Linked DNA regions of Homo sapiens. The protein of the gene in region 2 purifies or fractionates together with the protein of the main gene of each other region. This does not show direct contact. Each region holds a gene or a part of one and is shown on either strand. Other genes may lie near its edges.

What was found.
Region 1: the proteins of DMD (region 2) and KIF23 purify together in Homo sapiens (affinity purification with mass spectrometry; 2 studies listed by BioGRID and IntAct, with this or other methods). This does not show direct contact.
Region 3: the proteins of DMD (region 2) and LONRF3 purify together in Homo sapiens (affinity purification with mass spectrometry; 2 studies listed by BioGRID and IntAct, with this or other methods). This does not show direct contact.

The regions. Positions count from the first base shown.
Region 1 is NC_000015.10:69,437,576-69,446,334, forward strand, and holds part of KIF23 (kinesin-like protein KIF23), read left to right. Parts: intron 1-672; coding exon 673-830; intron 831-2,328; coding exon 2,329-2,502; intron 2,503-2,732; coding exon 2,733-2,912; intron 2,913-3,192; coding exon 3,193-3,504; intron 3,505-7,214; coding exon 7,215-7,466; intron 7,467-8,433; coding exon 8,434-8,516; intron 8,517-8,707; coding exon 8,708-8,759.
Region 2 is NC_000023.11:32,339,969-32,348,727, forward strand, and holds part of DMD (dystrophin), read right to left. Parts: intron 8,561-8,759; coding exon 8,438-8,560; intron 6,113-8,437; coding exon 5,975-6,112; intron 3,319-5,974; coding exon 3,166-3,318; intron 2,883-3,165; coding exon of another isoform or gene 2,874-2,882; exon of another isoform or gene 2,399-2,873; intron 2,315-2,398; coding exon 2,132-2,314; intron 1-2,131. UniProt on the Homo sapiens protein: Anchors the extracellular matrix to the cytoskeleton via F-actin. Ligand for dystroglycan.
Region 3 is NC_000023.11:118,983,845-118,992,603, reverse strand, and holds part of LONRF3 (LON peptidase N-terminal domain and RING finger protein 3), read right to left. Parts: intron 5,680-8,759; coding exon of another isoform or gene 5,524-5,679; intron 3,197-5,523; coding exon 2,932-3,196; intron 2,135-2,931; coding exon 2,044-2,134; intron 1-2,043.

The sequences.
Region 1 (8,759 bases), on a different chromosome or scaffold from region 2:
TCAGCCTCCTGAGTAGCTGGGATTATAGGTGCACACCACCACGCCCTGCTAATTTTTGTATTTTTAGTAGAGACGGGGTTTCACCATGTTGGTCAGGCTGGTCTCAAACTCCTGACATCGTGATCCACCCACCTTGGCCTCCCAACATGCTGGGATTACAGACGTGAGCCACCATGCCTGGCTCTACTATTTTTATTATCATTATTCATTTGAATCTTTACCAAAAAGTTGTGAGATAAAGTGGTATTTAAATTTCCATACTGAAATGAAATTTGCCCAGAAATATTAATTAACTCGCCTAAGTCATAACTAGTAAGTGATGTTCCAAGGATTTCAGCTCAGGTTTAATTAATCCCAAATAGTAGTGTTGTTTCTATTTTTGCGTTTGTTGTTGTGAAGCAAAGTACCTGTAAGGATTGGGAAGAGAATGCTATAGTGCACAGTGAAAGACTTGAGTATTTTTTCAGCATTTAACAGAAAGCTTCTGTGAATATCTTGTCAACTGGAGAATGAAGCTCCTGATTTCCCTCTAAACTTGTTTTCTCATTATAGACTGATTCTCACAGAGATTTGCTGAATAACTACATTTTATCTAGTGTCTGCTAGCAAAAGTTGATATCATTGTTTGTTTTAGAACTGGTGTAAAACTTGACCTGTATGTTTTTGTTTCAGCTAATGCTTTTAAAGCTTTGTTACAAGAATTTGACAATGCTGTTTTAAGTAAAGAAAACCACATGCAAGGGAAACTAAATGAAAAGGAGAAGATGATCTCAGGACAGAAATTGGAAATAGAACGACTGGAAAAGAAAAACAAAACTTTAGAATATAAGGTTTGTTTTGACATTATTATGATAGATGTATGTGCTGGTGTTTTAGCACTGTTCTCTGAGGGAGATATTGTGCTCCAACGGCCTGTAAATGCTGCTTATTAAGAGTTCTCGGTTGAGTGCGGTGGCTCATGCAGGTAATTCCAACACTTTGGGAGGCTGAGGTGGCCAGATCATCTGAGGTCAGGAGTTCAAGAACGAGCCTGGCCAACATGGCAAAAGCCCATCTCTACTAAAAAAGTACAAAAGTTAGCTGGGCGTGGTGGCGAGTGCCTGTAATCCCAGCTACTCAGGAGGCTGAGGCAGGAGAATCGCTTGAACTGGGGAGGTGGAGGTTGCAGTGAGCCGAGATTGAGCCACTGCACTCCAGCCTGGGCGACAAGAGCAAGACTCTGTCTCAAAAAAAAAAAGAGTTCTCAGGCTGAGTGCGGGGGCTCATGCCTGTAGTCTCAGCACATTGGGAGGCCAAGGCAGGGAGATCACTTGAGCCCAGGAGTTCCAGACCAGACCGGGCAACGTGGCGAAACCCCATATCTACAAAAAAAATTAGCCAGGCATGGTGGTACATGTCTGTAGTCCCAGCTACTCGGAAGGCTGAGATGGGAGAACAGCTTGAGCCTGGGAGGTTGAGGCTGCAGTGAGCTGGGATTGCACGACTGCACTCCAGCCTAGGTGACAGAGCGAGAGCCTGTCTCAAAAAAAAAAAAAAAGTTCTCAATTGGTTGTTTACTAATCCTCATCCCATGCTAAGGAGGAAATGTGAGTGAAATGAAGAATCATATGTTCTTTAATTTTATGAGAGTTTTAACAGTTGAAAAGGATGTTCTCTGACCCAAACAAGGGAGCTTTCTAGAGCTTAGCTTTGGTTGTAGCTTGCTTTTGAATTTATTAGAAATATTTCCTTAGTATGCTTTTTTTTTTTAATGAGATAAATGATTAAATGAAATGGTATAAAAGTGCCAGCATCGGGCCTTGGACGTAACAGATACTCAGTAAAGCTTAATTGGATCTGTATTTGGTTTACAAATCGATTGTAAAAGTATAAACTCAGGATTAATCTCTTACAATGGGGTAGAAGGAAATACCGTTTTGTTGGGAAGCATTGCAGCACTGTGTAATGTATGTCTGTTCTCTCATTTACAGAGGGTCATTTAGAGGTTTGGTGGGGGTACACATTCATAAGAGAAGTTAGTCTCAACCAATATAGTTTTTTTAAATTCTGAAAATAGCCTAAAAACTAAATTTTAGCCCTTAATTTTAGGAGAAAGTAATTTTCACATGAAGTTAGTTGTAAATGTCTTTGGGTGAGGAGCTTGTTTAACATGTTTTCATTTCTGAGAATGGGGGTGGGAATTCAGATGAAATGTTAGAGAAAAAAGTGCTTTCTCCATGATGTTTCTTTCCACAAATATGCTTGCATAAGCAAATTAAGGAAGACTATTTTATAGCGACATGAAATGTTTATATACCAAATATTGAACATAGTGGTCTACCTTCCTAGATTGAGATTTTAGAGAAAACAACTACTATCTATGAGGAAGATAAACGCAATTTGCAACAGGAACTTGAAACTCAGAACCAGAAACTTCAGCGACAGTTTTCTGACAAACGCAGATTAGAAGCCAGGTTGCAAGGCATGGTGACAGAAACGACAATGAAGTGGGAGAAAGAATGTGTGAGTATCGTTTGGGTAGTGCTTGTCTCAGAGTCGGATGATTTATTTTACATTGTAGTTAGGTTCGATATTTTGAATTATTGTATTTGCGGTAGGGTTTTGGTGGTGGTTGTTAACTCTCAGGAAGAATTGGAGAACTGTCATTTTTAGGAAATAAAGAGATTGGGTAATCTGGTGTACTCGTTTGCTGTGATGGAATGATAATATACATTGCCACTGATAATCTGTAGGAGCGTAGAGTGGCAGCCAAACAGCTGGAGATGCAGAATAAACTCTGGGTTAAAGATGAAAAGCTGAAACAACTGAAGGCTATTGTTACCGAACCTAAAACTGAGAAGCCAGAGAGACCCTCTCGGGAGCGAGATCGAGAAAAAGTTACTCAAAGATCTGTTTCTCCATCACCTGTGCCTGTAAGTTATTTGTAATTGTGTAGTAACTTTGTACTAGAGAAATTTTGTTCAGATTAGATGACTATTTCTATGAGGATTTTTACATTTTATAATACTTACATTTCTGAAATTTCTCTAAAAATATTTTAAAATTTAGAATAAACACAAATTTAGCACAAAAAAATAGAACAAATAATTATTTGTAATGTTAAGTCTTCATGTGCTAACATTATAGAAAAGTAATGAATTGTTTCTCTCAGTTTTTCAGTCTTGCTCATTAATTTTTCTCCAATTTTTCTAGCTTTCTAGTAACTATATTGCTCAGATTTCCAACGGCCAGCAACTCATGAGCCAGCCACAGCTACATAGGCGCTCTAACTCTTGCAGCAGCATTTCTGTAGCTTCCTGTATTTCGGAATGGGAGCAGAAAATTCCTACGTACAACACACCTCTCAAAGTCACATCTATTGCAAGGCGTAGGCAGCAGGAGCCAGGACAAAGCAAAACTTGTATCGTGTCAGACAGAAGGCGAGGGATGTACTGGACTGAAGGCAGGGAGGTGGTTCCTACATTCAGAAATGAGATAGAAATAGAAGAGGATCATTGCGGCAGGGTTAGTGCCAGTATTATTTTAACGCATTGTAGCAATAGATTTTATCTTCTTTGTTTTTTGTAACTTGTGTCTGAAAGTTCATTGGAAAAATGGTTGGGCTATAGTATAAAGAAGGTCTAATTTCTCAGTTAATTTGAAAGATTGACTTACGGAAATTGAGGCCTGGCTCCTCATCTGAAAAAGCCTAAACACATCTGGCAGCGGAAGTGTGTTCAGTGAACACAGGTCAGTTTGGTGCATCCCAGAGTAGTCTGAGCTTTTCAGCTGCATACGCTAATAAGCTTTGCACAGAATTGGTGAATGTGTCTTAAAGCATACTTTCCATATTTTTCTTTTGGTTCCCCTTCCCCAAATTAGATTTTTTATACCTCCTTTCATGCCCTAGTTTTAAAAATTGTTTTCCCAAATTTTTATTTTGAAAAATTTCAGACCCAAAGCAAAGTAGAAAGAATAGTATGGTAATGTCTTTCCCTCCTTGCCTAAGTTTACCAATTGTTACTTGATATAGATATGTAAACCTTTTTCCCCTAAGCCTTGTGAAAGGAAATCACAGACTTAGAGACACTTAATCTCTAAGAATAAGGACATTGTACTACCTAGCCACAATCTTTATCACATCCAAGAAAATCAACATTAATTAATTATCCTCTATTGAGACATTGTGCAGTTGTCCCAAAATTGGATTGGCTTTTCTTTTTTTTTTTTTAAAGACAGAGTCTCACTCTGTCACCCAGGATGGAGTGCAGTGGCATGATTATGGCTCACTGCAGCCTCAGTCTTCCTGAGCTGAAGTGATCCTCTCACCTCAGCCTCCCAAGTAGCTGAGATTACGGGCAGGCCACCATGCTAATTTTTTATTTTCAGTAGAGACAAGGTCTCACCATGTTGCCCAGGCTGGTATTGAACTCTTGAACTCCAGCAATCCTCCTGCCTTGGCCTCCAAAGGTGCTGAGATTACAGGCAAGCCACTGCACCAGCCAGCTTTTTTTTCAATCCATGATACTATGAAAGTGTATGCATTGCATATCATGATTATGTCTTTCATCTCTTTTAATATAAAATAGTCTCACCCTGTCCCCCTACTTTTTTTATTTTTATGACATTGACTATTTTCATTGAAGAGTTTAGGCCAGTTATTTTAAAATTACTGATTTCCATGCCCAATAAATTGCTTTTAATCTTGAGGCATTTATCTCAATTTACATTTGCCTCATTCAAGGGTATTTAAATAAATTCACTTTCATATTTTTCTTCTTAAAGATTAAGGTAAAGTTTCTTTTGAATCTGAATAAATGGACCAAGTTAATGTTTGCGAATTTTATATTTAGTAAAATCTTCACAAAGCTCTCTTAGAATATTTCTTCTAAATCTTACAGTAAACATTTACTTTAGATTTTCTTATATAAGTCAGGGTATAGATGAATGTTCATTTATGTGGCCTGAATTCCTGATTATTAAGGGATGGTGATGAATCCCAAGTTATTTACCAGGGAAACAGATGATTCTAAAGTCTCTTAAGTTCTTTACTTTGCAGATTTTTCCTTAAACATTTTTAGACAGCAAATTAGGTAAATGGTCATTCTGACCAACTCTAGTCAGTCATTTTATGAAAGTTTATAGGCTGAAAACTATTCAAGGCTTGCGTATGCCTTGCAAACCGTAATGAGATATCTAATTTGGCTATGAGATATTTAAGGGAATTTACTAGAGATTCTTACGTGAAATCAAAATCTCTTTAGAAGTGCAGCAGAAAAGTTACTGTAAGGTTAGTATCTGTGCATCTAAGTTTGTTGGTCAAAAATTATGTCAGGTGGACTGAATTTATACTTCAGTGAGGAAAAAATTTAAATATTTGTTTCATAAATGCTAGTAGATTGTATGGATTATCATCTTTCTGAAGTGTGTTTCATCATATGCTTATTGTTAAATGTTTGAAGAAAACCTTTGTTTTTGCTAAATGGTAGATGATAAGGACCAGACTTTCTTTCGTGTTCAACATTAAATAAATCATTGTAGGAATGGAAAGTTCCTGTTTGTCTTGAGGCTCAGCATCTTTAGTGGCAAACTGTATTGCCCATGTCTTAGAGCTGTCACTAGTGCTGCATTTGTTTCTTGTTAACTATATAGCGAAAATGATTCAGTTCCTCAGATGTGCATTTTGAAATTGAGGTCTTCATACTTGACTAGCTTTGACAGATTTGGCCTGTGATAGACTTTTTCCATTTGCTTTCAGTTTTGTTTTTTGGGTTTTTTTTTTTTTTTTTTTTTTTTTTTTTTGAGATGAGGTCTTGATCTGTTGCCCAGGCTGGAGTGCAGTGGTGTCATCTAGGCTCACTGCAGCCTTGACCTTCCAGGCTCAAGTGATCGTTCTACCTCAGCCTCCTGAGTAGCTGGGACCACAGGCATGTGCTATCGCACCTGGCTAATTTTTAAATTTTTTGTAAAGATGGGGTCTTCTTACATTGCCTAAGCTGGTCTCGGGTGATCCTTCTCCCACCTCAGCCTCACAAATGTTGGGATAACAGGTATGAGCCACTGCACCCAGCCCTGCTTTCAGTTTTACAAACAGGAGATGTTCATAAAATTCTAAAGATAATTCATTGCTTCAAACTATAACTATGGCATATATGTGACATATTATTTTCTTAGGCTGAATGTGCTTAATTTAGCATTCCCAGGTTTACATGACATTTGACTGGAAGCAACTTGTTTGTTTTTGAGGCAGGGTCTCATTCTATTGCCCAGGCTGGAGTGCAGTGGTGCGATCTTGGCTCACTGCAATTTCCACCTCCTGGGCTCAAGCAATCCTCCCACCTCAACCTCCTGAGTAGCTGGGACTACAGGCACGTGTCACCAAGCCCAGCTAATATATATATATATATTTTTGTTTGTTTTGTTTTGTTTTGTTTTTGTTGAGTCTGGGTTTCACCATGTTGCCTAGGCTGAACTTGAACTTCTGAGTTCAAGTGATTCCTCCACCTCGGCCTTCCAAAGTGCTGATTACAGGCATGTACCACCATGCCTGGCCTAGCAACTAGTCTTTTATTGTGTGATAGAGACTGATTTGACACTGTATTATTTATTTGTTTCTTGGAACCTGTATGAAATGTTTGGGGGAAAAATTAGTTGGTATATTGTAGCCATTACTGTATTTGAACTTTTCATGAAGTTCTATTATGAGATTTTAAAATCTTAACTGAAAGCACTCAGAAGTATTTCACATTTCTTTAATCATTTTATTCATATGGTTCTTATTATACCTATGTTCTTAGGATTGTTTTCTGTTTTGTTTAGAAGCCTAGAAAATGTGTAGGGCTTTCATTGATCTTATTGAAGATTTTAACAGAGTTGTGGACATAATAGATTACCTCTCAATAGCAGGGATAAATATTGGTTTTTGATCAAGAATATGAAATGAGTTGTTTGTCCTGAACCACCCCCAAGCAGGAAAGACTTGCAGCATTACCAGAATTTTTTCTTTTATCCTTTATTGAAAGGGAAACTCCCAGATAGAATGTGTAACATACAAGTTGGTGTTAAAGATGTTTGTTGGTTTTGTGTTTAAATGCAAAGATCATGTTTAAATTACTTGAATAAAATATTTAGCTTTGGAAAGGTTTGCTATGATACTGTCATCAACTAATGTAGCCAAACCTGCTGCACTTCTAATAATACCCTTAAATTAATTCTGGGTTATGCTTGTTTCTCAGTTACTCTTTCAACCTGATCAGAACGCACCACCAATTCGTCTCCGACACAGACGATCACGCTCTGCAGGAGACAGATGGGTAGATCATAAGCCCGCCTCTAACATGCAAACTGAAACAGTCATGCAGCCACATGTCCCTCATGCCATCACAGTATCTGTTGCAAATGAAAAGGCACTAGCTAAGTGTGAGAAGTACATGCTGACCCACCAGGAACTAGCCTCCGATGGGGAGATTGAAACTAAACTAATTAAGGTAAAAAACTAATTTTCACAGGAGAAAAAAATATATTTAAAAATTCAACAAAAGTCCATTTGTCCTGCTACTCCTTTGGTGACACACAGGTAGTGTCAACTGGAACATCAGTAGGTATTTGATATAACCTTTTTGTTAGCAGAAAATTAGTCACTGCTTAGGTTTTAAGTCTGCCAAACTGGGACTAAGTATGCTTTAAATAGGTATAGATTCTTCGGTTTCTTAGAATTCTAGATCCATGATGTACTTTAATTTTTTAATGACTGTATATTTAGTTTTAACCACTACTTAAAGTAATCTAAGCAAAGAATTCCTATTGCTCTCCATCAGTTCAAGATAAAAAAACAAAAACAAAACAAAACGAAACCTATGTTAAAATTTGACCCGTCAAAATTACTCAGTATTGAGCTGCCTAAAGCCGTTTTCCAGAAAGAGACTTGCCTGACTATAGAAGAATTCCCCTTTGATCATAGGGTCAGTGAATAATCAGGAAAGTAAAAGATAAGACCAAAAAAAAAAAAAGCTTTTTATTTCAATTTCAATTTAGAGTTTTTGTTCTTATTATAATTAGCTACAAATAAGACTATACTGTCATTTGAATATGGGCAACAGGGGGCACTCAGAGAAGAAAGTACCATGCCTTAGAGCGTGTAGAAACTTCCAGCAAATTTCTTGATCCTTAGTGCAGTTTAGTTTTTAAATTACAGATGGAGCAAAAGGAATATTTTTTTCTGCAATTATGAATGTTACTGATTACATTGAATTGGACTTCTTTTATTTGTGAGAGATATGTACTCAAATTTCTAAATTATTTTGATAGTACGTACTCAGCAAGTACCAAGTACCATCTGATTTTGTGGATGGGAATTTCTATAAAATAGAATCATGAGAACAGTTTGAAATATATATGTGTGTTTTTCGTTTGGGTGTATCAATGTGTAACAGTGACCTTTTCTTTTGGCTTTAGGGTGATATTTATAAAACAAGGGGTGGTGGACAATCTGTTCAGTTTACTGATATTGAGACTTTAAAGCAAGAATCACCAAATGGGTAAGTAACCATCAAAAATCTCTGTATAAAAGTTGGTCATTTTCTTAGCTGCTCATTTTGGAGGAACAGAATAGCCTGTGAAATGTATCATTAATTCTCCAAAGGGATGTAGATAGTATTCCCCTACTTCTAATATTTTTCCTCTTCTTAGATGGAAAAATAATTGTTGCATCATGTTTCCCCTTTTTCAGTAGTCGAAAACGAAGATCTTCCACAGTAGCACCTGCCCAACCAGATGGTGCA
Region 2 (8,759 bases):
AAGCTGTTACTGTGACTATCACAAATGACTCTAGGGCGTAAGAATTGGGAAAGATAACTCTAATCAGTGGCCACAGTGAAATTAGTTTTAAAATGCATTGACAATTGGTCAAGTATAAAGATGTATCTTGAATATTTCTACACCCACCTGTCTATCTATCTACCTACCAACCTATATACCTACTTATCATCTATCAATTATCCCTCAGTTCTAATTAAAATACGATGCCAAATATAACTGCAATATTAAATTGATTATTCTTCATACAGATTGTGATTACTTTATTATCATGGATAATTAAGAGTTAACACAAAAATAGCCCCCTTCACATTCTGAATTTTGGATCTTTAATATATAAAACTTAAGAATAAATCGTTTATGAGGAAAATATATCCCAGAATTTTACTACAATTTTTTAAAAATATATACTGGTTCACACATGCTTCCTTTATTTCACCAGTCATTATTACGTTGTACAAATATTTGTTGAGAGCCTACTATGAATAGGGACATAATGGCATTTTAAGTAAGTGGTTTATGGAGATTTTTGATCCTGTGCCTATTTAGCCATAAAGCATTAGCAACTTGATTAGTTTGTAACGAATTTTAAACCTGCATATTGGGTGTGTCAAGACCTGGGGAAAATTGGAATGGAGAAATGAGTTAGTAGTCAGATAATTCAAAGCAAAGGACTCCCCCTTGAATGATCTATTAAATTGAGGTGAAACTATTTTATTAGAATTTTCTTTTTGATTGCCTTAATCTTTCGCTTCATTTTGCATCTGCAGACACAGGCTTGCTGGTTAGTGTAAGGTTATTTATGACACATTACATTCATAACATCTAATATGAAGGATAATAGGCTGAAACATTCAGCCAGGTGGAATTAGACTTCACATGCAATACAGTTTCGCTATTTCTCGTATTCTTCCAATTGCTCAGAATAATTCACCTGCTATTAAACTTTAGGGTATTAGATTTAACAGAAAACAGTGTATTTATTAATTTTCTTGAAGTATTAAAAGAAGTCACAATAATATGCAACATACTTCCCTTATATGCTTATAAAATTAAGTTATGGTAACTGCTTTTGACATTTTAAAAATATACACCAAATTAAATGGAACTGACACTATCACAGAAGAAGTTCCCAAGAAGTCTCATACATGGGCTGAACCCTATGCAGTTATTATTTACATAGGGCAAAATGGTTGAGTATCTGTTTGATTCATATAATTCAACCTAACTTAACTATAAAGACTTAGTTTCCAGATTTTGACATCCTGGTTTTGTGAGGAGTACTTTCTTCTATAATTACAGATGATGATCATTCCTCTTCATCTTACAAGTGTTAATAATAGGAACAAAAATGTACCTGTCAGAAAACCTCTATGGTTTATACCTACTACAAATAAAGAAGTGAGACCAAGCTAACAATTCTGAATCGCCTTTTTAAAGAGAGAACCATACACTTTCCATTCAGTTGTTTGAAAGAAGAGCAGTCACTCCTTTTTGTTTTGGCTGGTAACATTTCAGTAATAACATTATCTGATATTGTTCAATCTGCAATCAATTAGCAACCATCTTACTAGGCATCCAGTTCTTTTATGGGCACTGTAACCCATTAAGTAGTTAAACCAGGTGTGAGGATTAAGCTATTATTCTTCAAGTCAATGAGATAATGGCTTATGCAGGTTGACATAAGATGTACCATGAAATATTTATTATTTATCATGTATACATTAAGAAAGTAAAATCAGCATGGGATGATCTCAGGAAAGCAATACATATTTTTTGGATTAGACATTGAAGTAAAGTGAATGTATGATAAATTGACAAATTAACATTGCCAATGTTATGAAAAATGATGTAGCAAAAAAAATTAAGATGTATTTTCATTTTTGATAAGGGGTTTTCCCTGTTATCTGTTAATTTCTTGTGTCTTTAATTGGCAAAATTAAGCACTAGTGTTACAGAAGCCCAAAGTGAGGGAAACCACTCACTTTCAGAATGTACATTAGAAGTTTAAAACTGTACCCAGATTTTTTGTCTCTTTTTTTTTTATTAGTAGGCCTCTGTTAATAGAGTAGTAGTTGCAAACACATACGTGGGTTTGCCAGTAACAACTCACAATTTGTGCAAAGTTGAGTCTTCGAAACTGAGCAAATTTGCTCTCAATTTCCCGCCAGCGCTTGCTGAGCTGGATCTGAGTTGGCTCCACTGCCATTGCGGCCCCATCCTCAGACAAGCCCTCAGCTTGCCTACGCACTGCATTCAGCTCCTCTTTCTTCTTCTGCAATTCCCGATCAATTTCCTATTGAGCAAAACCAATACAGGGCCCAGGGCAGTTAGCTAACCACATCAACCGACTTGCAAGCAGCAAATACTTCTCTCAAAATTTCAAAGGCTGTTGTCCCTTTATTGTCATCCTTTGAAGTTTACAAATATGAAAGGCATGACTGTCATCCTCGCTCAATAACCCAAATATTATTTCAGTTATCCTTTGAATGCTTGGTTTTAGATATTCTAATTAAGTAAATATTGAAATTGGTCTAACATTTTCTTTCTTCTAAATTCCTCTGGTGTCTTGGGATTTGAAACAATTTGGAGTGATAACTCATTATTTATTAGGGACCGTCCACATAGAATATAATTTAGAGGGTAAGTGAATAAGTTATTTATTTCCTTTTTAAAGGTTTGAGGAACTCAACAGAGAATGAAGCAAAATAAAAAGTGTAAAATAATAACAGAAAAAAACATATTTAGACAATATGCAAATAAATCTATAGAGAGTGAACACTGATGTGTGAAGATGCTCTGATGAAATGAATGGGCTAACATGAGTAAGAAGTCGTCCATATACCGATAAGTCATTAGTTCATCTGGAACAAAGATACACAAAGTCAATTACAATTTTACCAGAAAACACATCACATTTCTTAAATCACTTTACATAGTCTAAAACATTTTATTCATTCAACATTACGTCAATTGAATAACACTTAATACAATACATTTACTGAAAACAACACACAATACAAGGAAATGCATCAAATCAAAGAGAACGTTAATAGAAACAAGAACATCAACATTTTAAATATGATCTTCACAGGTTAATTAAACTGTATAATAAAATCTGGTATTGACATTCTAAAACAACATTACCTTTATTTTCCTTTCATCTCTGGGCTCAGGTAGGCTGGCTAATTTTTTTTCAATGTCATCCAAGCATTTCAGGAGATCATCAGCCTGCCTCTTGTACTGATACCACTGATGAGAAATTTCTAGAGCCTTTTTTCTTCTTTGAGACCTCAAATCCTGTTCATGGTGCAGACATTATTAAAATATCAATATATATGTATAGTGCACTTCTGGCTGCAGTTATTTATCAAAATAATTTGCGTCCCTCATCTTTTTGTACAACTTAGGTTAAAATCATATTTAAATGCAAAATATACAAAGACATAATTAAATTGCCTATGCATGAGGCGGGACCCATGTATAGGAAGCTAAGAAACCTGAATAACACACTTAAAGTATTTTCTCTTAGCATGTTCAAACTTGCTTAAAAATTTTGTCACATTCAATTGACTCTTAATGAGCTAACTGTTGTGTAGTTTATGTGCAAGAGTTTAATATACGAATACAATTGACTTAACTAGATACAAACTCACAAACCTAGTGAGTTTGTATCTGACTTAAAATAGGTAAAATTCTAAAATGTATATCTTTAGCCTTGGGGCTCATCAACAAAACTTTATGTACTCAACCAATATACATTCATGTTTTTAGAAATGCCTACATAAGAGTTTCATAGGCCATTAATATTTTATGATTAGAAATATAAAGCCATTTTAGTTGTCTTATAAACTGTTCCAAGCTGTATGTGTAGAAGTGTCACCACTGTTCGTATATTGGTGAACATAACTAATAAAAAATTATGTGAGATAAATGCTTCTCCTTCCAAGGCTTGCATAGCCACATTTATCTTACTATACCAAATCATGCTCTAAATGCAAAACAATTAACTATTTGAAAAAAGAAAACAGCAAGTGCATGCTTTCAAATCAATGTGATAAGACTAATTTAATAAATCAACAATGGGAGGAAATCAGTCATCATGCTCTTTACAAGCACACTCAATATCTTCTGTGATTAATAGAATTACTCAAAATGCCATTTTATAATTCATGGGAACATAAGCTCTGCATGCAGCTTTCATTTCTACAGAAAGTAGCAATTAGGGTTTTATTCACAGGTTTAATTCGAGCGAAAAAATAATAAATATCAGGGAATTTCTAAAAATTTCATTCCATTGGAAAATTTTGACCTTCTCTAAAATATTTCATAAGGACCAGAATTGGAACTATTTGACAGGTTTAAAAAGTTATTGAATATGTTGGTATAGATTGGTTTGGCGAGTAGTGTTGACGATTTTGATTAATCACTTATAGCCTGTATTTGCAAGAATGAACTACATTTCATTATCTAGTTTGTTTAAAATTGGGAATTTAAACCTTGCTGTACTTTATGTTTTATGTTGAATTTTCAAACCTTCTGAGGAGTCAGATCGAACGCTGCTTTTTTCAAAGGTAGCAAGATACAGCCACGTGAATTAGAGTTGAGCCATGCCTTATTTGTGACATAACTCACATCTTTGCCAGGAGAAAGGGCTTGGTGGTCATCAATCTGAAACATCTTTCATTTCCTAAGCACAAAGTGATGTATAATATGTAAAATATTTAGAGATGTCATGTAGATTTCTTTAGAGGAATGCCAGATGACCATTAAACACTGCTATTCAGTAGGACACACACCATCATACGACCAGTGTAGATACTTCTGAAAGCTTGCTCACAGTTGGAAGGGTGTGAGTTACATAGCGTTCCGATTTTCTAGACACATTATGGTGTGCTTTTGCACTCCCTCGAGGAAGAGGCCTTTTCTGTTTACTATATTTATCAGCAGTTACCTTCAGAACACCTGCTGGCCAATTAGACTTTCCTTGTGGATTCCTTGCAGGCACAATATTGTGTAATTACATTCTCAGCAGTGTTTATTTGGTTGACTATAGGGGGAAAGGTTTTATTCTCTTATTTGCATGTAGAAAGCAGACTCCATCTACCTGCTAGGTGGATCCACCTTCATAACTACATAGCTCAAAAGAGTGATTTACAAGGAAAAGCTCAGCAATTAAAAGTATTAGAAAATCAGCCATGCATGCAAATAGTGATTATTGCAAAGCATATACAAAAAAAAAGTTTCACAAAACTTTCCACATGTCTAGTCTCAAGAACTTCCTAGATATTATTATAGAAAAATTAAGTTTATCCTGCTCTTCCTGCACAAACCAGATGAGTCACCTGGGGACTTGAAGCCATACACTACACTGCTTAATATGAAAGTAGCAGTTCTTATTCAAGGGCACTAAGATTATTTTTTAGGATTCCTACATAAATGAAATTTGACTTTGTAGATAGTTGCAAAGAGTGACTTTCTTAAAGGCATAATAAAGTTTTAAAAATAAATAAAAGAATCTAGGGCTTATTAAACAAGTATCAGGTTACCAAAAAATTGGACCTAATGCAAGCAAAATCAATTAAGTAAAGAAAGCAGGAATAATGGATACATGTAGATCGGTTATTCTGGCAGTTAGGCAGGTTTTTTTCAATATAAAGTAGCTGATAAAAATAAAGCACATTAGAAAATTAAATGTATAAGTACTATGAATGCATTCCCATCTTTCAATTACTACTTAGAAAAATATGTCTTTAAAAAGCCATAACTTTTAAGCAACACATCGTTCAAAATCAAATACCACTCAAAAATGTTAAATAAAGCATACACATTGAACAGAAAAAGTGAGTTTCTGATGACTAAGTCTGAAGCAGATTTTATTAATGCACATTATATTTTACCCTATATATTAAAAAAAAACCACAGGCAAGGTATATTATAATTTTAGCTCTAATACCTTGAGAGCATTATGTTTTGTCTGTAACAGCTGCTGTTTTATCTTTATTTCCTCTCGCTTTCTCTCATCTGTGATTCTTTGTTGTAAGTTGTCTCCTCTTTGCAACAATTCTTTTACAGTACCCTCATTGTCTTCATTCTGATCAAAAACAACAAGTACAGTCTTCATTTTGGTTTTTAAAAAGCTGTACATTGTTAACAGAGATAATAAGACATGTTATTTAAACACACACAAAAATCCAATTTAAAACTTTCATGGAATGCTATTATAAGATACTGTGCTCATAGCCTTTCTTTTACATTTGGTACTTGAGGTTTCAAAATAAGTTTCCTCCCATCTAGTTGTAAAGAACACATTTTTAGGGGCACCTGTAGAAAGATGGGGGAGTGTGGTACTTCATCATGTCAGACAAGTCATGAATTACTGTGAAAGTATTCTTTTGGCTTTTTTAGTGTAGTTCTAGAAATTAAAACATTAGAGAAATGAGCTAAAGTTATCATTTATAATGTTAACTGATCCATAAAGGAATACAGATGTGTATTTGTGACTGAGATAACAGCAAATCTGAAAATATTAACACACAACTACATGAAAATATTTTGATTTAAATGTACACTAATTCCTATCTAATAACTCCTGCTTCATTTCTGAAACCTAAATGCTCAATATTAATAGGAGAAATATCAGGATATTAATAAAAATCATGTGCTAAGTTACCATCAAATAATTTCTAAAATATGTCATATATGCATGTTAATTTAAATACGATCAAATAATACTAAAATATGGACTGGAAAATGGCTTTAAACATTTTCAATGGGTATTTTGTTCCTTTAGGCTGCAAGAACAATATCTTAATTTTCTTTACTTAGAAATAAAATGTTTTGAATAAATGCTGGTCTAATATAGTCGCATATATGACCATGTGATTTTTCACCTTTAGTTTTCTTTCTTTCAACTCAGAATGTGAAAACTTTGTATCAAGTAGTCTCACATTGTAATGGTACTCAAGGTACACTGATGACATAAGGAAAACAAATAATAAATTTCAAAAGTCACAAGTATTTGTATGTGTGTATTACAATTCAAGGAATTAGATGTTATATATTTAAATCTATAATGCATAAACTTCAACACGCAACTGAGGACTGATTCATTTTGTATGGGGGAAAGGGATTATTTTTGTCAGAGACTGGTCAATAATCTAAAGAAACATACGGCATAATATAGACACATTATATACTTATCATAATATAGACACATCATATACTTATAGTCTGTAAAAGACTTTACTTATTTTAAAAGGTGTTGTAAAAGTCTGTAGCATTTTCTAGGGCTGAGGACAAAAACAACAAAAAATTAAAAAACCCACTTCACTTCTTTCCCTATACCAGTTGAGGGCTCTAGGGCAGAGTTGGGGTCAGCCCAAGAGGTAATCAGTACTTTTTTTCATCTTGGTGCCCTCTAGTTTCTTCTTTGACCTGAAGTAGAGATTGCTGTAACTCAGCAACTTGGAAAGCCTCTTCCGTCTTTCCACAAGCTGAGTTGGCAAGGCCACCAAACCCCATACATGGGGAGTATTGATTGAGGCAGCTCCAGGAAGTGGGAACTAAGATTGGTGGGAATAGTTCTCCTATTGCTTCACACACTTATTACCTAAAATTTATATATTGTCTTCTGATGTCACTTTCAAGCATTGTCTGAGAAGGCTCTAGCACTGGTAATTGTAAAGGTTAAGAATGCCACAGAGGTGATGGCAGTGAAAGAGGGGAAAAAATTGTGAAAAGGAGGATGAAGAGAGAAAAAAAAAGTCAGTTAATAAGGATGTGATGTACAAATATTCAAGCCAGAGAGAAATGTAGTAGATACTTTGAAATTAGTTGGGATTGAAGGAGAATATTCTGAGGTTGGGAAGAGCACACATGGTCATATTTCTTTACTCCCATGAAATAAGCAGCATGAATTTATACACATTTTAGACATATAATGTACTAACTAAACAACTATTTGGTAAAACAACTTTGTGGGAAATTGTAATAAATAATGTTCATATTATGCATTATTCTCTCTTCATTGAAATAAATGTTATACTACCAAAAACATTGCTGATACAAAATGTCAGTCATCTATGATAGTTGAGTATTTTATTAAATTTTTAGTTTATTTTATGATTCGACTCTTTTTTCCAATTACATTTTGCCCTTGATAAGTTCAAAAGTAGGTCAGGTCAAAAGAAAATTGCTGGGCTATTTATTAGAAACCGTAAGTGCTCCTATATTACCATACCATAGTAATTCAGCATTTGTAATAAAAGGCCAAGAATATTCTGCATTTATAAAATTCATTAGAATCATAAAATGTGTAATATGTGCTCTGAAAATTCAGTTGGAGACTTATCTAAGTTCTTTCCAAATATTTATTTCCACTCCTAGTTCATTCACACTTTTATCACAACCAATTTACCATATCTTTATTGAAGTCTTCCTCTTTCAGATTCACCCCCTGCTGAATTTCAGCCTCCAGTGGTTCAAGCAATTTTTGTATATCTGAGTTAAACTGCTCCAATTCCTTCAAAGGAATGGAGGCCTAAAAAAAAAGATAGTGCTACTTTAAATCAAAATTACTTTTTATTAGAAACATAAACCAAAAGAAATACATTTATTCAACCTCCTGTTGCTAAACTAATCACATGCATTATGTTTCCATATTATGTTTTATGAAGGGTTTTGAAATACAACTGGAAAAGTACCTGAGGATGCAAATAAGGAGAAACATTTCACATCAC
Region 3 (8,759 bases), about 87 Mb from region 2:
TGTCTTCCACTACCAGGGTTGGTAGGGAAGGACCATTGGGTGGGGGCAGGGCTAGGTATGTCTGAGCTCAGACTCTCCTTGGGCAGGTCTTGCTGCAGCTGCTGTGGGGGATGGGGGTGAGATTCCCAGGTCACTGGAGTTGTGTACCTAGGAGGATTATGGCTGCCTTTGCTGAGTCATGCAGGTTACCAGGGAAGTTGGGGAAATACAGCAGTCACAGGCCTCACCCAGCTCCCATGCAAACTGAAGGGCCAGTCTCACTTCCACCGTGCCCTCCCCAACAGCTCCAAGTCTGTTTCCAGGAGGAGAGTGAGAGGGACTTGAGAACTCGACCGAGGCTATTTGCCTCCCAGAGTATTTGGGGTGTCTCCTGGGTCCTGCAGAAGCAACCCGCTTCCTTCAGAGGGACTGTGGGCCCTCTCGGGATTGCTGGTTTGTTCTTTAGTCCATCTGGAGCTCCACAGCCCTCCCCGCAGGACCCGCCAGCACAACGAACAGCAGCCTGCCAACCGTCTTAATTTTTGTGCAAATATCTCAGCCTCCTTTTAATGCTCTTTTGGAAAACAGACACATTTGTGAATCTGCTAAAGGATGTGGACCTTGTCCTGGAAAACCCACATACTTTAACATACAACTTCGAGACATTAATACATCTATTAGAATCCATATATAGAACATCCTCAGAGGTCCATAGACCCAAAGTTTCCTTCTGGACCTCTGGTCTACAAGGAAAAAAAAATAGTTAACATTTACTGAGTATCTATTATATGCCAGGCACTATTCCAGGTGTTAAACAGATTTTTCTCAATTAATCATGACAACCCTATGGAGTAGGTACACTGTTCTCTATTTTACTGACAAGAAAACAGTAGCAGAGAATGTCACTTGCTCCATCCAGGTCAACAGCCAGTAAATGACAGAGCAGGGAGCCTCTCCTCTAAGCCAGTAAGTCACAGCTGTGAAATCAAAGACATGTAAGCAATTTTAAAAAATTGTGTATGGTTACACACACCATAATCATAGCCTCTTTCTTTTGGGGTGGGGGAGCATGTGAATAATTTGCCTCTCCAGAGATCTGAGAAAGTAGAGATGATGTGGCACTGTTTGGTGGGGAGATACTTGGCTAAGTATCTCAGGCCCACCACTAATATTCATGGCACAACACAAAACAAAAGCTAGTCAGGCCCACCACTTGGCTTCCCAAGAATAGTCTGTGGTGGTGACAGTAGTCCTTGAACTTTGAGCTCTTGCCCATGTAACTGAGATTAGTGCTGGGATCCAAAATTTAAATTATCTCTAGGGGCTAAGAATGTAATGCAATTGTGACACACAGGTTGGAATAAGGCAGGTGGGTGGCGGGGGCGTGGTCAAATGGAGAGTACATGTCCTGTCTCAAGACATTCACGTTTAAGAAAAACAAACCCCATGAGGGCCAAACAAAAGACATATTCAGACTGGGTGCAGTGGCCTGTAATCCCAGGACTTTGGGAGGCCCAGGCAGGCAGATCACTTGAGCTCAGGAGTTTGAGACCAGCCTGGGTAACATTGTGAAACCCTGTCTCTACTAAAAATACAAAACTTAGCCAAGCGTGGTGGCACAGGCCTGTAATCCCAGCTACTTAAGAGGCTGAGGCACGTGAATCGCTTGAACTGGGGAGACAGAGGTTGCAGTGAGCTGAAATCGCACCACTGCACTCCAGCCTGGGCAACAGAGCAAGACTCTGTCTCCAAAAAAAAGACATAAAAAAAAAAGACATATTCAGACATATTCAGCCCAGTGGGCCATCAGTTTGTGACCTGTGAATAGACTGTTCCCTTCCCACTCTCCAGGTTTTTCCAAGTCAGGAGCCAGGAATGCAGGGAATGCAGTCTCTGGGAAGGGGACACAAGCTGACCCATGTGACAATCAACGTTGTGATTTCCATTCCGTTAGAGCTATGCTTTTTACATGCTAACCAACCCAGCAGTAGGTCACTAGCAGAAAGGTCCAGACACCAGAGATGAAGAAACATCAGGAAGTAAATGATAGTACACAGGACGTACCTCATACATAGAGCGCATTCAAGGTCAGATGCGTCGAAAGATGCAAGTGGTAAACTGAGAGCAGGTTTGTCCCCCTGATCAGTGGGAGGATCTGCGATTTAGAAAGCAAGAAGTCAGCGCTGGAGCCACCCCGGTTTCATAGATAGTACTTCTGAGGCAAAATAATCCAATGCGTTTTTCAGTTTGCCACTCTCACCACCACCTCCCAGAGAGTTGATTTAGTGGACACCTGAGCCGTTGAGAATGGGACACTCAGAAGTAGGCTCTCAGAGGTTTCCAGCAGGCCCAACAGAAAGAGAAATGCAAGTCAAACAATGTCCAGGAGCCCTGGGGACTTCATTCAAATGCAACATGCACCTCTGTCAACAGCAGAAGCTACAGCAACTCAATGGACTGAGCCAGGCCTTCAAAGCTAAAACTGAATCTTGGCACTGCCAACCTCTCGTGGAAAGATAGCAAGCCACAGCTGCTGCTTCTCACATGCCTACCTATGGGAACACAACTGGGAATGAGCAGGGTGAGGCCTGACCTCACTTTCCTCATCCTGCATTCCTAGAATGGGGATGGGGGTAGCAAGAGGCTGACCTAGAAGGAAGTGGCATCCCCATGGGTATGGGATGTCATTAGTTGATACTGTGCTTGACCTGATGCCTTGGCTTTCCATTATATTAATAATTAGTATTGAACACTTTTTACAGTGTGCTAGGCACTGTACATGATCTCACAGAAGCCTCATAGCAATCTCTGAGGTCACACAGCTAGTAAATGCCAGAGCTGGGCCCCACACCCAGAGCCTAAGGAGCCCCCAGACAGAGGTAAGTAACTTGTATATATTGGTGAGCCCGGGGATCTCCTCCAAGCTACCTTCTCTCTGGGTAGAGCCAGTACCTTGCTTGGAGGCTTTATTAGGCATCCCCGTTTCTTCTTGGGATTCAATCTGGCAATGTTTCCTTTTCTTTTCCTGGCATTTTCCAGTCTTGCTGGAAGCAGCTTTTGGAGAGGTAGCATCCCACTTCTCCTCCTCTTCTTCCTGGTCTTTCATGTGGTGCTGCTGACCATCCCCCTTCACTTTAGCTGGGTCCATCAGACTGCTGCCATCTCCCCTGGCTGCTGCTTCCTCCTGACTAGAACAATGTGGGAGCTCCAGATTGTCCTGGATGAAGAAAGGGCCACATATCAGAATCTTCTTAGGACTAATATTGTCCTCTCATATTCCTACCCAGAGGAACAAAGGGAAACTATAGAGTCCTGATCCCCACCCCGAACTCATAGTGGACACAGAGCTCAACTTGGGGGCCGTCATAAGGCATTATTTCCTACTTCTTTTCTGCACAGTATCTGCAACCAAGGCATTCCCAGCTTGGGTGGAGTTAGGGAACTTCCTTAGGCAAGGACAGGAAGGTATGTAGGAGGAGAGCCTCCTTGGGCAGGTGTAAAAAGGGGAAATGCCAGGGATAGGCACCAGTTCCCCTTCCTATAAAATCCTTCCCCAGTAACCACTTTAGCAAAACCAAGGCAGGCAGTGACGGCAGATCCTGTCACTCAATAGTTCCTCTCGCCCTCACTGCCATTCACGGCCGTCTGCGATCCCCAAACTCCAGCTCCAAAAGGACTTTTGGTAGGGCTTTGGCACAGGTCTGTTCACAGGCCTGCCAAGTTACCTCATGCTCCAGGTCTGTATGTTACACTGGTCAAATGAACAAGGTACAAACTATTCCTTTTACTAGATTTGGGGTGAAAAGCATTAAAAAAAAAAAAAAAGACAAAATCACCTGGCAAAAAAAATCAACAATGTCTCTAGCCTTTTCAAGAATATTTTCCCAGGAGATGGATATTTGAAAAAGGATTTAGAAATAAGTGCAATAACAACATGTTTATGCAGATTTACATGGAGAACCCCTCTCTAATCTAAACCCATAGTCCATAGGTCAAGATACTCATCGTGTTGTTTCCCTCTAACCCTACCAAAAAAAAACTGGCAGACAGGTGAAAAAGGGGAGCATATAGCTGGGAGAAAACAATGAGGTGAGGACAAAAATAATGTGGGTTTTCTCTGTGTCTAACTTGGGAGTTGGGGTTTTCTCCAGCACTACAGCAATACTACAACCTTGACTTTCCATGAACCCAAGGCATTGGCCACTCAGGAGTATACTGCTTTGCAAAGCAAAGTTTGGGTGGAAATCCAATCCTTGTTCCCCAGCTGGTTGACATTGGAAAGCCAAGGTTGCTGTTTTTCTTCTTTTCAGATGGAGCTGCAATTAGAAGTCACTCCAGGCATTTGGGTTCAGTATTAGCATTCTCAATCATTTAATAGTGATCTTAATTATTGAAATCACTGGGGGTTCTGTGATTTCAGGAGATCCTCTAAGTTCTGCCATTTTTTAAGAAAAGTTGGGCGCACCTGCATTTCAGTCCTTTTATGAGAGCCCAGGGCTTACACACAGGAGAAGAACACCGGGCATGAATGGAGGGAAAACTGCCCCCTAAAGATGCCCAGGCATTCAGTGCTAAACTCTGCCTTGGAGTCTGCGCTTCTGATCCTCAACTTCTGACCACTTACCCTCTGCCGGGAAAGCCAGGGCCTGGAACCCATCTCTCTTGTGTTCTGTTTCCTGGTTTTCAAAGAAAGGTACAAATACCTGTCTTCCTCCCAGGTCCTTCAACTCAACTTTCTTTCCAACATCTCTTTCCTCTTCTCTGTTACAAATACGTATTGGAAGCTTACTTATGTATAAGGCATAGTGCAGGAATATGAAATTACATCCATTTGAGGATCAGAGTTGTCTTTGCACAGGATAAGTGCTGGCACTCAAAGGCCAGCAGCTTGAACAAACAAAAGCTCGAAAGGAGGGATTGTTAGGCCCTCTTCCCAGACTCATCCCCAAAGCCTATAAACCCACCCAAATGGTATGGCCCAGGGGCAGTGAGCCAATTCCTTTCTAGCTCTGTAAAATCTCTCTCGGCTGGATCTAACCAAGAACTGGAAAAAAATGTATCCTAGCACTTTGGAAGGCCAAGGTGGGAGGATCACTTGAGGCCAGGAGTTCGAGACCAGCCTAGGCAAAAATGGTGAAACCCCGTCTCTACAAAAAAAAAAAAAAAAAAAAAAAAAAAACTTAGCCAGGCATGGTGGCACGTGCCTATAGTCCCAGCTACTCGGGAGGCTGAGGTGGGAGGATCTCTTGAGACCAGGAGTCTGAGGCTGCAGTGAGCCATGATCATATCACTGCCCTCCAGCCTGGGTGATAGAAAGAGACCCTGTTTCATAATTTTTTTTCAATGTAATGAATAAACTCTGGGACCATGCCTGAAATTCACAGTTGCATCTTTAAGAGGTTCTTTGCAAAGAACAGAACCACTAGTGACTCAATTTCTTCTTTCTCAGGAACCAAAATAGGAGAGGGAGGGCTCACTCCCCACGTTTGCCCACAAAACAGCCAAACGAAGCGTCACGAGCGAGCTGGGTGAGTTGAGTTTTACCTGTAACAACCTTGGTAGATTATGGCTGGTAACTTCAGTAGTCATTGACTCTACGTTTTCCTTTAATCTAGGGTGAGGTGCCAACAGCTTCAGGATATCGGGAGAATGTTCCTGAGAATCCCCCGGGACTGATGGTGAAAAGAAACTAAGGAGAAGCTGTGACATAAAACAGAAGACTTCACTACTTAAGTTTCTACAGGTGCCCAGGTGAAGGGGAGGAGGGTGAAGGGGGGAGGGAGCCAGCTTGCAGGGCAGAACTCCAGGGAGGAAGCCTTGGACCAGTGTCCCTAACACACCACACCAGGGCAGGGGTCCTCGCTTCAGCGGGCATCAGAATCAACTGGGGAACTTATGAAAAATCTAGGTCTCTACTTTGTACTCCCATCTCCCCCAGGTCTGGAGTGTGGCCCAGGAATCTGGATTTTGAGAAGGCACTACAGATGCCTCTGTTGCCTAGCCAAGGTTAAGAGCCACCATGCTAGTGCTAACACTCCGCAGAAATATCTGCAGTGGGATTTTAAAACTCATCTAGGAGGAAAGAGACAGAGAGGTAAAGTCAGGAGAGAAACCTCACTTGGGGAATTTGAAGTTCATAATACCTCAGTGGGTAGAAGTCTACAAATGTCTTCTAGGATCCTCACTGTTTCTTTTCTCCACTACCCATTTTGCTTCCTCCTCTCCCCACCATCACCCCTGGATCTTTAATCCCTTCAAAGCTGGGAACCTGAGCAGTTAACTGTTAGGAAAAACAGAACTCCAGCTTCCTCCCTCTTCTCCCAACCTCGCCTCCCCTATGCTGGCCTTTGCCTCCCAGAGGATGTTAGGTTAAGTTTAAGTACTAGGCGCAAGGAGGTTCCAGTCTCTTGCTGGTTTCCCTTGCAATTGGATAAGCTGGGAGGGTAGACGTGCGTTCTAATGTAGCTTGCACCATTCACTGTCCACATTCTTGCCCCAAGTTTCCCCTGTACTAGCAAGGATTGTGTGTGTGTGTGTGTGTGTGTGTGTGTGTGTGTGTGTGTGTGTGTGTGTTTCCATATACTGAAACATGTAACACAAGGAGAGCAGGTGACTTTGCTTCTAAAACCTGCTCCAGTGCTTACCACCCAGCAGCTCCTGCAGTGTTTGGAGATCCACTAAAGGAAGCTCCAGTCCCGTGCTGAGGGTACATAGTTAGGGTATTAATTGATCAACAAAATTTGACAGAACACCAAACTCCAGTTTGATTTATTCTCTGGCCCCCAGCAATCTCTTCATGATGTTCCTTCAGATGCCAGCACTTGCCATGAAGCCAAACCCCACTCAGCCTTCAAAGCTCAGCTCAAGTGCTACCTTCCCTCACTATTCCAGTCCTGTTCTACACAGTAGTAGAGAGTGCACCATAATATAGCATCTTGAACAACACCACGTTATGTTATCCTAGAAATGTGTCACAGATGTAAGCCTTTCTCTCCTGCCAGACGGCCAGCTTCTAGAGGGCACATAACAGATACCCAATAAATGCTCATCACACTGGATGGAATTGAATTAAGACACTTATCCACCCCAGGGCCCAGGGAGAGGCCTAGCATTCAGGCCCAAAGTCCTCAGATTGATCCTTATGTTTCCTTTCAGCTCTGAGAAACCCACTTTCCAGTTATGAGTTGGCACAGGAGTTAAATGGGGAGGTACTCACAGCACCCGGGGCCATAAATGCCAGCTTTCAGAGGTCCCTCCTCCACAGGAGCCAAGGTTGGTCCTCTGAAGCCCTAATGCGTGACTCAACAGGACCAAGCCAGTTCTGAGGAGGCAGTATCCTTGGAATTCTCCCAAAAAGAGCATAATACTCTTCAGTGGCAGCCACACAGCATCACAAGGTGCAAGGATGAAAGGGCAGAGGGTGGTGGGAAGGAAAAGAAGGCCAAGGGAGAAATCAAAGGAAACAAAGCAGAAATAATAACAGCAGTTCCCTTCTTCATTTTACTACTTGAGATCTCTCTCTAGGCCTTCTCAATGGCATTGGAAAACAAAAGTTGGGGTCAATTCTCAGTGAGAATGATCATTCCACATGAATGAAAGTCAATTCCACTTCAGCCTCAGCCTTAGAAAGGCCCAAATAGGTCAAGAAGAGGGAAAAAGAATCTGCAGTAAAAACAAACATTAAAAAGAAACACAGCCTGTGAGTTCGAAGGCAGCTTATAAATGTCAACTGAACCTGCATCATCTCTGTCAAATCTTTAGCCCTGAAACTGGAATGATCTAGTAAATAAACACAACTGAGGACTCTTGATGTTCTGAATCGCCGCCATGGCCTCATCACACCCAGTGGAAATTCGCCTCTAAATTCTCGCCCTCACTTCAGAACTCTGTAACACTCATCACGGGCATACACTCGCTTGCATCATCTGGCATTTATGTTAACAAATGCAAGATTGTTAAGTTCCTTGAAGACTAAAACTGTGACTTATGCCTCTTTGGGTCTCCAGAGCTTCACACAATGCCTTGCCTCCAACCATTAGGCAGCTGTGGAAATGACAACAGTTTCTCTATAAAAGCAGACTGGAGAGACAGGTCAGCCCAACTGATGACACCAAAAACATCTCAGGCTAGCTGGGAAATGGACAAACAAGAGTCAAGAAACCATTCCTCCTTGGGTCTGAGACCTGCCTCTGCTGGCCTTTGCACGCTCCGTCCCCAAAGATAAGTTTCTTCTAACTGCCTTTGTTCATCCTGGAACTGGAAAGTTCCATTGCTACTATTGATCCAGCTTCACCAGTGAGTGCTAAGGCTGTGGCCATGTCCTCATGGGAAGCAGGATGGCAGAGCAGCTAAGAGGCCAGGCTTTGGAAGCAGATAGACTTGGGTTTGAATACTTTCCCACCAATCACCAGCTGCATGACCTTGGGAAAGTCAGCAAGCCCCAGCTTCATCTGTCTCACCTGTAACCTGAGGATAACTAACCAAACCTAGCCTCAGGAATGTAGTGGGATTTAAATAATATACTCCACATAAAATGCCTAGCACAGTGTATAATGCAGAAGAAATTCTCAACGAATGTTAGCTATTATTATTATCATTACATCATGGACTACACTTAAGATTTGGAGAAGGGTCCACAGCTTGAAGCAATTCTCCCCGAACCGTGCTCCTCTCAAGCACACCTTTTTCACATACTCAAACCAATTCAAAGCAACTTCCCAGAAAGGAGATCTTTTGTGAGACAGAAAATCCAGGGCCAGTTCCCTTATTTCATTGATTTT